Linked DNA regions of Homo sapiens. The protein of the gene in region 3 interacts with the protein of the main gene of each other region in a biochemical or structural test. Each region holds a gene or a part of one and is shown on either strand. Other genes may lie near its edges. The genes, in order: LATS1, STRN4 and MINK1.

Region 1 (3,649 bases), on a different chromosome or scaffold from region 3:
AACTGCACAGGTAAGTTCTGCTATGTAGAATCGTGCCAGACTTTCTGGAAAGATGCCCATTCTAATTAATAGGCTCATCATATCACCCCCAGGAATGTAGTCCATTACAAAGTATAAATTGTCCTTATCTTGGAATGAATAATATAGACGAACTACCCATTCATTGTCAGCTTCAGCCAGGATATCTCTCTCAGCCTTAACATGAGCGACTTGATTTCGAAGAAGAACATCTTTCTTTCGAAGAGTTTTTGTTGCATACAAAGCCTTAGTATCTACTTTTCTTGCTAGACAGACTTCACCAAATGCTCCTATTCCTAGTGTCTTTATCTTCACAAACATAGACTTGTCCATTTTAGCCCTTTTAAGACGGATGTAATTAGATTCTTTTTGGCAAAGCATCTTTCTCATTTGATCCTGGGCATCTTGAGATAATCCAACCTAGGCAAATAAACTAGATGTTAAATAAGAATTATCTTCTTCAATATTGAATATTAAGAAATAGCTTGGGAAAAATTCAGGCATATATTTAAAGGTTAAATGCATAATTTTTAATAAAGCATGTTAGAAATCTAGAAAACATTTCAAAGGAAATTAATGATCAAAAGTGCAGCCTAAGGGGTAGTTAAAAGGATATTCAAAGTGAGTACCTATGCAAATTCAGCTGTGGAGTGCAAGAAGAGGGTACCAGATGAGTAAGCTTTCTACTCTTCTCTAATGCACTCCGAAAAAAAAAAAAAAAAAGGTTCTCAATGTGCAACAAACATCTGTTAACATGTTAACATGCATATTCATTTATCTCTCTGTATATGCTTCTCTTGGTGGAATGCCTAGGCCTCAAATATTCTTCCTATTTTGTCTTTCATGAAAAAAAATTCTTCCACTCCAGGCTCATTTATTCTAAAAAATTAATGTACCAAAGAACAACAAAACAATGCCTTTTCTAACCCACCAATCCTTTCCCTATTCTCAATAAATATACAACAGTCATTAATAATCTTTCCTTTTCTATTTTTCAGGGCATCAGAGTAAAGGTGCGACTCACAGTCTACCACTAACACAAATTGCAAAGGGTTTCTCCTACTTCGAAAAGAACAACCTGGTTGTTTACAAGATATCCTTTGGATACTTAGGAATACTTCAGTGTGACTCATGAAAATATCAAAAAATAGATTAAAAACAAAAACTAACTTCTAAGTATTATAGATATGGAATGCCTGGATTTAGAAGGGAGAAACATTTTGGCTAATTAATAAAGAATTAATTAAAGGGTTTAAATAGAAAAGAAATCCAGTTGGAAAAGTGGGGTCTAATTCTAGAAATACAAGACTAAAATAGAACAACCACATGCTTCTGTTAGGATTCACATTTGCATGCAAAATCTTTTAAGAAGGATGGCATGCCAGACTTAGTTCAGAACTGTTTCTCTTAAAATCTTACTTGCCTACACAGTAATGGAGACTACAGAAGTCAGCAAAGCTTCCAACACCATAAAAGTTTAAATCAGCTATTAGTGAAAGTGAAGAGGAAAAAGGAAAAATAAACTAAGAAAATACACATAGGCAGACTTTAGTAAGAAATCCTAAGAATTAAAATATGGATAAGTCATAGAAATTATTATGGTATTTCTCATTTAATAAAATATAAAATAGAAATAACAATACTGTAAAATCAGATTTATTAAAATCATTTTAAAAGAATGGTTCAAGTATATAAAGGTGTTTAATCACAAGGTTAAGCCTCTTGGATTGTGAGTGACAGATGTAAGATTAGGAGTCAAATCTTTGAACTCTAAGCATATGATAAAAACAATAATGGCCAGGCACAGTGGCTCATGCCTGTAATCCCAGTGCTTTGGGAGGCAGACGCGGGTGGGTCATGGCGTCAAGAGATCAAGACCGGCCTGGCCAACATGGTGAAACCCCGCCTCTACTAAAAATAAAAAATTAGCTCAGCGTGCTGACGGGCGCTTGTAGTCCCAGCTAGTGGGGAGGCTGAGGCAGGAGAACTGCTTGAACCCGGGAGGCGGAGGTTGCAGTGAGCTGAGATGGCGCCACTGCACTCCAGCCTGGCGACAGAGTGAGATGTCGTCTCAAAAAAAAAAAAAAATGATGATCGTACTACCTTAATATCTAGAGATCTATGTGGAATGACAACACAGATTAAAGTGTGTTTACTTACTCTGATCTCCCTTTTAGTATAGTTTCACTAAATAATTTTAGCACATTTTTCTCCAGTATATTATAAAAATGAAATGAGAAGGGAGATATAACTGAAGGAAACTTCTTTACACTTTTTAATAAGATATATGTGATGAATAAACCTATAAACTCCAAATTTTCTAAAAGTAAATGTTTTATAAGTATATCAAGAGATGAGACCCACGTATTTCTTTTTTCTTTTTTTTTTTTTTTTGAGACGGAGTCTCACTGTCGCCCACACTGGAGTGCAGTGGCGCGATCTCGGCTCACTGCAACCTCCGCCTCCGGGGTTCACGCCATTCTCCTGCCTCAGCCTTCCAAGTAGCTGGGACTACAGGCGCCCGCCACCATGCCCAGCTAATTTTTTTTGGTATTTTTAGTAGAGACGGGGTTTCACTGTGTTAGGCAGGATGGTCTCGATCTCCTGACCTCATGATCTGCCTGCCTCAGCCTTCCAAAGTGCTTTGATTACAGGCGTGAGCCCCCATGCCCCAGCCTGAGACCCACATATTTCTAGTTTATTTTTAAATGTTGTAAGATATTGTATGAAGCCTAGAAGACAACCCTTCCTCCAATTTTCATATAAAGGTATTATGTACACCTAAACTGTATACCGCAAATTATATTTTTCTTAATTTACACGAGATTTTATTATAGGAAATTCTGAATAAATATTGAAATACTAAAATAAAATGCTACAATCAAAAGTACTTTAATATTTATTCACTTTTAAATTCCATAACTGATAATATATTTTATTTAGCTATAAAAAGAAAGAAAAATACTGGACACAATATTTTAAAATAAACACCAAGCAAACAGATGATTAAGTATAAAAATGGACATTTTAAAAGGTTTTACCCGCATCATTTCATTCTCTAATTGTTTTTTACGATGTAGACGCTGCTGATGAGATTTGAGTACATTTTCTACATGTTGCTCCATAAAGAATTTAAATGCTTGAGGAGAATAACTTTGAATACGAGATTCCCTTCGCTCTTCATCTTTCTTGTTTTTCCTAACAGTAATAGGTGAAGTTGTAATCTGTTTCTTTTCTTTATCCCCACTATCAACATTTTCATAACTCTTTTCACTCTCATCTTCCTTGGGCAAGCTTGGCTGATCCTCTTTGCTAGGCTTACTGATTGACTCGTATGGAGGAACAGATGGGTTTTGGTGCAGCAGATGTTTTGGGTAGGGTGGTGGTGGTCCTTGATAGTTTGGAGCTTCAGCAACAGGTGGCATCACAGTCACATTTGAAGCGGTTCCCTCAGGAAAAGGACTGGGTTGAACAGTTTGAATTGGCTGTGGTATCCAAGAAGGGTGTGTAGGTGCTAAAGCAGTCTGTAGCTCTGGTTTTAATACACGCATACTTTTCACAGGCTGTTGAATAGGAGCTGGTGTAATTGCAGTGACTGTTGTAGCAGAAGGCTGAGAATTAGCAGAGTGAC
Region 2 (3,649 bases), on a different chromosome or scaffold from region 3:
GGCCAGGCTGGTCTTGAACTCCTGACCTCAAGTCATCTGCCCACCTCAGCCTCCCAAAGGGCTGGGATTACAGGCGTGAGCCACTGTGCCTGGCCAATCCACAGACATTTCTAGTTGATCTGGGGTCTCCAAGGGATCCTACCTCCCGTAAGGAACTGGGCCCATTTCGAAGTTGCGAACAATGGACAGGGAGAATAAAAATGATGAAAGAAGTAGAAGCTGGCATTTGTTAGCCTTTATTCTGTGCCAGGCCTTGACTGAGCAGAACCTAGCACATGAGGGGAGGGCACTCTTGTGACTCTCATTTTCTAGAGGGGCAAATGGAGGCTCAGAGAAGGCTGATGACCTGCGTAAGATCATGTAGCGAGTAAGTGTCTAAGTTGGGCCTGGGCTCTGGCTGTTCTGGGCTGGAACGGTGGGGTGCTTGGGGAGAAGCCAGAGATGAGCCTTGGGCCAGGGCTTTGGCAGAAGAGCTTCTGGACCATGGTCAGGGGCCAGGATCCTGCCTGGAAGGCAGTGGGCCCAGTGTCTCCAAATGACCTGTTGACAGACTGGAGCAGACGGGGCAGCTCAAGCCAGCAGACGGTGTGAAGTGCTTGGCAGGAACCCGGGGTCGTGTCTGTGGCACATTTCTCTCACACCCTGGGCGGAATGCAGTGGGACGGCTGGTCCCCACAGCGGGCTTGGCTTGTAAAGCTTTTCTATTGGAGCAGGAGCCGAGCCGAGCCACCCACTCTTGTCCCTAAGCTCCAGAAGTAGCTTCCCACGCCTCCCAGAGACAGATGCTCTGGTAAGAATAGTGGGACGCCACCTCCACCAGCAGCCTTAGGGACAGCACCTGCCAGAGGGCGTCAGGGGTAGTCCAGGGCGGTGAATGCCCACCCTCCTCTCCACTGCCATCCCTGACCCGACTTCCCCCCAAAGGCAGCCACCAGGTGAGGCCCAGGCTGGCCCCATTGTTATCTCAGGGGTTAAGGGCTCCCCTTCGGCCCTCGTTGTGGGTGACGTGGCAGGGGGCCCTGGAAACAGATCCATCCTGTCCTCTCAGTGCTCCCTGAACCCTGGCTTGGGATCTTTGTGCCTGAGGAAGTGGCTGCTGCCCATTACTGTGGGGTGACTGTGGGCTGGCACTATACCTGGGTGAGTGATAGACACACCGGCATTGAGCCTGAGCCCCATTATCTCCCTTTGCCTCCTGTCTGCCCTCCCAGGCTCAGGTGGCCTTCCTTCAGGGAGAGAGGAAAGGGCAGGAGAATCTAAAGACGGACCTGGTGCGGCGGATCAAGATGCTAGAGTATGCGCTGAAGCAGGAAAGGTGAGCCTTCATCCTGCCCTGGGCCTGCCTTCTGGGTCCGTCTCAAGCACAGTGTCAGGAGGCCACCAGCCACGCCTCCTTCCAGCTAAGGGAGATTTGGGGTCGACATTCTTTTCCATCATTCCAGTACCATAAGATTCTAGGGGAGAAACAGGACAGAGTAGGTGGGATTTGGGTTAGACACCAGGAACGATATTCACGATGCTAGTGGCCCACTGTGCGCCAAATATCGTATAGTCCTTACCTCCGTTATCCCTTATACCTTCCAATAGCCTAACGGGTATTGTTAGCCCTGTTTCAGATAAGGAACTGGGGTTTCAAGGGCTGATGGTTTCCTCAAGGACCCCTGAGAGCAACCTAGGTTGCCTGACTCCAGGGAGTGGTTTCTTCCACCAGGCCAGGGGTGTGGGGGGATGCTTCAGCCTCAGTAGTAGACGAGCTGGGGGAGGCCCTGTGATTTGGGGTTTGGGATTCTGGATTCCTTAGGTAACTACTGACCCTGTCTACTCTCCCGCATCTCTTATTCATTAATCATTTGCTCTTTTAGGGCCAAATATCATAAACTGAAGTTTGGGACAGACCTGAACCAGGGGGAGAAGAAAGCAGATGTGTCAGAACAAGGTACCCACCCTCTGATGCTCGCACTGTCGGCACCCTCCCGCAGAAGCTGAGTGTTCTGGAGAAGCAGGAAGATGGGGTGCCTCTTTCTCACTTTGCTCCTTAGAAGGCAGAATCGGCCCCGGGGCTGGGGAGGGGCGGAATCTCACTCTCAGAGCCCTCCCTATGGGCTGCCAGGTCCCGTGCTGGACCCTGGGGGCCAGTCCCGCTTGGGTCCCCCTGTGCAACAGAGGCAGACACACGAGCAGCTCACGGGATCCCTTTGCGAGGAGTGGGCGCCAGGGCTATTTATAGAGTGCTGGGGACGGTGCGGGAAAGCCGGGGAAGACGTCACTGAGGAGGTGGCGTTTGAACAGGGTTGCCGTTCAATCGTTCATCCAAAAAAGACTTTATTTGTAGGGTACAGGCTTTGTATCACAGATCAGGAATACAGCAGAGAGCACGGGAGACATGGTCTCTACCCTCTGGTCCCTTAGAGTCTAAGCTCCTTGAAAGATGACTCCGTTCCCCAGCAGGAGAGTCAGGGGAGAGAGCACAGATACAGAGACGCACGCTGAAAGGGTTAGGGGACAGGGAGTCGGTCAGTGTGCCTGGGCAAACAGTGTAGGGCAGAGGATGTGGGAGGGCGGGCTGGGTGAGGGGGAAGCTTGGCCGAGGCAAGCTGAGAAGACCTTGTGTGCTCAGCTGATAGTGATGGTCATTACCTGCTGCCAGCTCCTCTCACTAGAACGGAAGTTCCACAAGGGCAGGTCTTTGTTTACCCATGTAGCCCAGGCCCCTGGCCAGGCACAGCGTAGATGCCCAGGAAAGACTTGAATAAAATACTAAGCAAATTATCTCATTGCATCCTCTCAGCACTCCCAAGAGGGAGATGCTGTTATCATTAAGCTCATTTCTCAGAGGACGAAACTGACACGGCTTACACTAACTCAGGGTCACACAGCTGGGATGGGGCAGAGCTGGGCTTGAACCCAGTCGGCCCTTCTCTCAGAACCAGGCCAGCTTTCTGGTTTTGAGATAACACCCTTATCTTGTCGGGGGCCAGTTTGGGGAACCACCAGTCAGGAGACCTAGAGATGAGGAACGCTTCAAGGAGGAGGAATCCCCGAGTAAGGGAAGAGAGCAGGGTTCCAACACTCAGGAAGTGATGCCACAGGACCTGCGACAGTGACCGATTTGGGTTGGAGGGGTGAGGAAGATGGAGGAGGTGATGGGTAGGTGGCAGTGGCCTGACTTAAGACAGCCTCCGTTCTCTCACCCGCCAGTCTCCAATGGCCCCGTGGAATCGGTCACCCTGGAGAACAGCCCGTTGGTGTGGAAGGAGGGGCGGCAGCTTCTCCGACAGTGAGTGTGCTCGGGGAGGGGGGCTGGGGACACGTGACACGTTTGGCTTGAGAGATAAGTCCAAAGACTCCACAGTCCTTTTCCGTCCCCACTGGGGATGCTGAACTATCAGGATCTTAGCCAGCCATGGCTGGAATGGCTTTCACCCTGTGGGCGGAGCCTGGCCTGGGGAGAGGGAGGGAAACCCGCTGCAGGAGGCAGACGTGGGGACACCCCTGTTGGAATGTGTCCCTGAATGCCTCTGTGGCTTTTTTTTTTTTTTTTTTTTTTGTCTCAGTGGCCATAGGAGCCCTGTGTGGCTTTTTTTTTTTTTTTTTTAGATACCTTGTGAAGATTTATGAAGCATGGCTTTTTATTTCCCAAGGGTAATAT
Region 3 (3,260 bases):
GAGTAGGGGGGGCACAGGGACTTTACCAGCCTACCCGCCTGGGGGTGGGAAAGCCCCAGCCCCATCACCTCAGCGCCCCCCCGCCGCCCCCTCGGCACCCCTGTGCTCCCTTCACAGACCTCGCAGCAACTCCGCCTGGCAAATCTATCTGCAAAGGCGGGCAGAGCGGGGCACCCCAAAGCCTCCAGGGCCCCCTGCTCAGCCCCCTGGCCCGCCCAACGCCTCTAGGTAATAGAGTTGTCCCCCAACTCACTCTCACCTCTCACTTCTGCCACCCGCTTCCCTGGTGATGGCTCCCTCTGCAGTGCAGCTCAGCACCCCAGAGAAGGGAGCACCGTGCCTCCCTGACCCTGACTCTGCCCCCCCAACAGTAACCCCGACCTCAGGAGGAGCGACCCTGGCTGGGAACGCTCGGACAGCGTCCTTCCAGCCTCTCACGGGCACCTCCCCCAGGCTGGCTCACTGGAGCGGAACCGCGTGGGAGGTATGTGAGCCAGGGCTGGGCAGCCTGCTCTGGGCCTGGGGGCTTATCACCATGGACCCTGCCTTTGGTGGCTTTGGACTGGGGCACCCACACGGACAGGGAGGACCTGTGTGGGTATGGAACTTGGGGCTGAGTTCTGGGGCTCAGGGTGTGGGCTTGAGGCCATCCCTTGTTCAGGCATCAGTGACCTTCTTCCACCCTGCCGTCCAGTCTCCTCCAAACCGGACAGCTCCCCTGTGCTCTCCCCTGGGAATAAAGCCAAGCCCGACGACCACCGCTCACGGCCAGGCCGGCCCGCAGTGAGTCACCTGGTGGCAGGCATGGCCTGCCTCATCCTGGTTTGGGGCTTAGCCTCAGGGTGCTGGGTGTCAGGGGTGGGGTCTCCGCTGATCTACCGAGAAGGGCTGTGGGGATGGAGGGACTGGTGCTTCTCATGGTGCTAACCTTTCCTAACCTCTCTCCTAACCTCTCTCCTAACCTCTCTTCTGGCTCTTTCTTCCCCTGCGGCCCCTCCCAGAGCTATAAGCGAGCAATTGGTGAGGTTAGTGAGATGGGCCTGCTTGTGGGAGCCCCTCCTGTCGCCCTGCTGGGGTGTCCCGGCACCCTTTGTCTACCTCCACCCAGGCCCAGCTTCTCCCTGCCCCTCACGTGGCTCCTCCCTGCAGGACTTTGTGTTGCTGAAAGAGCGGACTCTGGACGAGGCCCCTCGGCCTCCCAAGAAGGCCATGGACTACTCGTCGTCCAGCGAGGAGGTGGAAAGCAGTGAGGACGACGAGGAGGAAGGCGAAGGCGGGCCAGCAGAGGGGAGCAGAGATACCCCTGGGGGCCGGTACGGCATCGGGAGTGGGGCCCTCCCACTCCAAGGCACAGGGAGGGAGGGGAAGTGGCAGTGGGGAAGAGGTGGGGCTTTGGGGCAAGTCTGAGGGAGAGCGGCTCCCTTCTCTAGAGAGTGGGGTGAGGGTGCAGGTTCCTGTCTCTCTCCCGCTGCCCTGTGTGTTGTGGGGTGGCCTCTTCAAGTGCCTGTCTGCCCCTGTGCCAGCCTGCCCTGTGTGCCATGCAGGGAAGCACCTCACGGTGGAGCAGGGGCTACACCGTGAGGGTGGAGCAGGTTGTGTTTTGAATAGAGACAAAAGCCTGGGCTCTGGCTGCCATCTGCTGCCTTTGGCACTTCTGTGGCCACGGGCAGGACCTGGAGGGGCCCCACCTTCCTCTCTCACAGCAGCGATGGGGATACAGACAGCGTCAGCACCATGGTGGTCCACGACGTCGAGGAGATCACCGGGACCCAGCCCCCATACGGGGGCGGCACCATGGTGGTCCAGCGCGTGAGTGAGCCTCTGCTCCCTCCCCTGTACCTGTGTGTGCCCTCCTCAGCCCCACGCCAACCCTGCCCTCTGTCCTGTAGACCCCTGAAGAGGAGCGGAACCTGCTGCATGCTGACAGCAATGGGTACACAAACCTGCCTGACGTGGTCCAGCCCAGCCACTCACCCACCGAGAACAGCAAAGGCCAAAGCCCACCCTCGAAGGATGGGAGTGGTGACGTAAGTGGGCCGGAGGCAGGTCCGCCGGGAGAGAAGAGCCCTGGCGATGGGCAGGAGGTCCCGGTGCTGGGTAACGGCAGAGGATGGGGCGGAGCGCTGGGAGCTGGACAGCGGGGGTGCCAGTTGGGGAGCTGGAGCCTGGGGAACAGCAGCAGGGGCAGGGCCGCAGCTGGACTTGCACTTGTTTGCCTGACTGCTGTCCCCCTACCACAGTACCAGTCTCGTGGGCTGGTAAAGGCCCCTGGCAAGAGCTCGTTCACGATGTTTGTGGATCTAGGGATCTACCAGCCTGGAGGCAGTGGGGACAGCATCCCCATCACAGGTGAGGACAGGAGGACAGACCTGCTGTGAGGCCAGGGTCCAGGGGCAGCCTGGAGGGGAGCACAGTGGTCTTGAGACGCAGCCTCACAAAGCATAGCCACAGGACCTCTCCCTTGGGCCCTAGCACCTGCCTGGGCACAGAGGCAAGGAAGAGCCTCTGAGACCCCTCCTTCCTGTCCCACAGGACAGGAAATGCTCAGAGTTGCCAGGGGACCTGGGCAAAGACTCAAAGCTAACAAGTGACAGAAATGGGACTTGAGCCAGACCTTTTGACTCCAAGTCCAGCACTCTATCCCCCTCTCCCATGCACCTCCTCTCCTCCTGTCTTTCTCCTCCTTTCTGCGTATTATGAGGTGCCAAGACCTGATATAGGGGATGGAGGTAAAAAGAGATGGGGTGAGAAGCTGCAGCCCCTCCTCCCACCTCCTCCTCCTTCTGGCAGCCCTAGTGGGTGGAGAGGGCACTCGGCTCGACCAGCTGCAGTACGACGTGAGGAAGGGTTCTGTGGTCAACGTGAATCCCACCAACACCCGGGCCCACAGTGAGACCCCTGAGATCCGGAAGTACAAGAAGCGATTCAACTCCGAGATCCTCTGTGCAGCCCTTTGGGGTAAGCCAGGGCAGGGACAGCTGAGGAGGCTCTGGCGTGGCTCTTGTGCTCCTGGTTAGGTGAGGGCCTGGCTGAGCCTCTGACCTGCCCAAGGGCTCCTGTTGCAGGGGTCAACCTGCTGGTGGGCACGGAGAACGGGCTGATGTTGCTGGACCGAAGTGGGCAGGGCAAGGTGTATGGACTCATTGGGCGGCGACGCTTCCAGCAGATGGATGTGCTGGAGGGGCTCAACCTGCTCATCACCATCTCAGGTACAGGTGTGGTGAGTGGGGGAGGGAGGAGGGGCTCAGCTCCTTGGCGCT

Evidence for each region.
Region 1: of the proteins of MINK1 (region 3) and LATS1, one has a biochemical effect on the other in vitro, tested with the Homo sapiens proteins (2 studies listed by BioGRID).
Region 2: the proteins of MINK1 (region 3) and STRN4 form a complex in vitro, tested with the Homo sapiens proteins (one study listed by BioGRID).

Annotation. Positions count from the first base shown.
Region 1 is NC_000006.12:149,680,020-149,683,668, forward strand, and holds part of LATS1 (serine/threonine-protein kinase LATS1), read right to left. Parts: coding exon 3,060-3,649; coding exon of another isoform or gene 2,997-3,059; exon of another isoform or gene 2,895-2,996; intron 1,505-2,894; exon of another isoform or gene 1,442-1,504; intron 439-1,441; coding exon 1-438. UniProt on the Homo sapiens protein: Negative regulator of YAP1 in the Hippo signaling pathway that plays a pivotal role in organ size control and tumor suppression by restricting proliferation and promoting apoptosis.
Region 2 is NC_000019.10:46,736,451-46,740,099, reverse strand, and holds part of STRN4 (striatin-4), read left to right. Parts: intron 1-713; exon of another isoform or gene 714-790; intron 791-1,211; coding exon 1,212-1,315; intron 1,316-1,862; coding exon 1,863-1,936; intron 1,937-3,198; coding exon 3,199-3,277; intron 3,278-3,597; coding exon of another isoform or gene 3,598-3,642; intron 3,643-3,649. UniProt on the Homo sapiens protein: Calmodulin-binding scaffolding protein which is the center of the striatin-interacting phosphatase and kinase (STRIPAK) complexes.
Region 3 is NC_000017.11:4,892,285-4,895,544, forward strand, and holds part of MINK1 (misshapen-like kinase 1), read left to right. Parts: intron 1-117; coding exon 118-228; intron 229-371; coding exon 372-484; intron 485-694; coding exon 695-783; intron 784-1,001; coding exon of another isoform or gene 1,002-1,025; intron 1,026-1,149; coding exon 1,150-1,313; intron 1,314-1,703; coding exon 1,704-1,809; intron 1,810-1,889; coding exon 1,890-2,027; intron 2,028-2,240; coding exon 2,241-2,349; intron 2,350-2,790; coding exon 2,791-2,958; intron 2,959-3,051; coding exon of another isoform or gene 3,052-3,065; coding exon 3,066-3,209; exon of another isoform or gene 3,210-3,210; intron 3,211-3,260. UniProt on the Homo sapiens protein: Serine/threonine kinase which acts as a negative regulator of Ras-related Rap2-mediated signal transduction to control neuronal structure and AMPA receptor trafficking.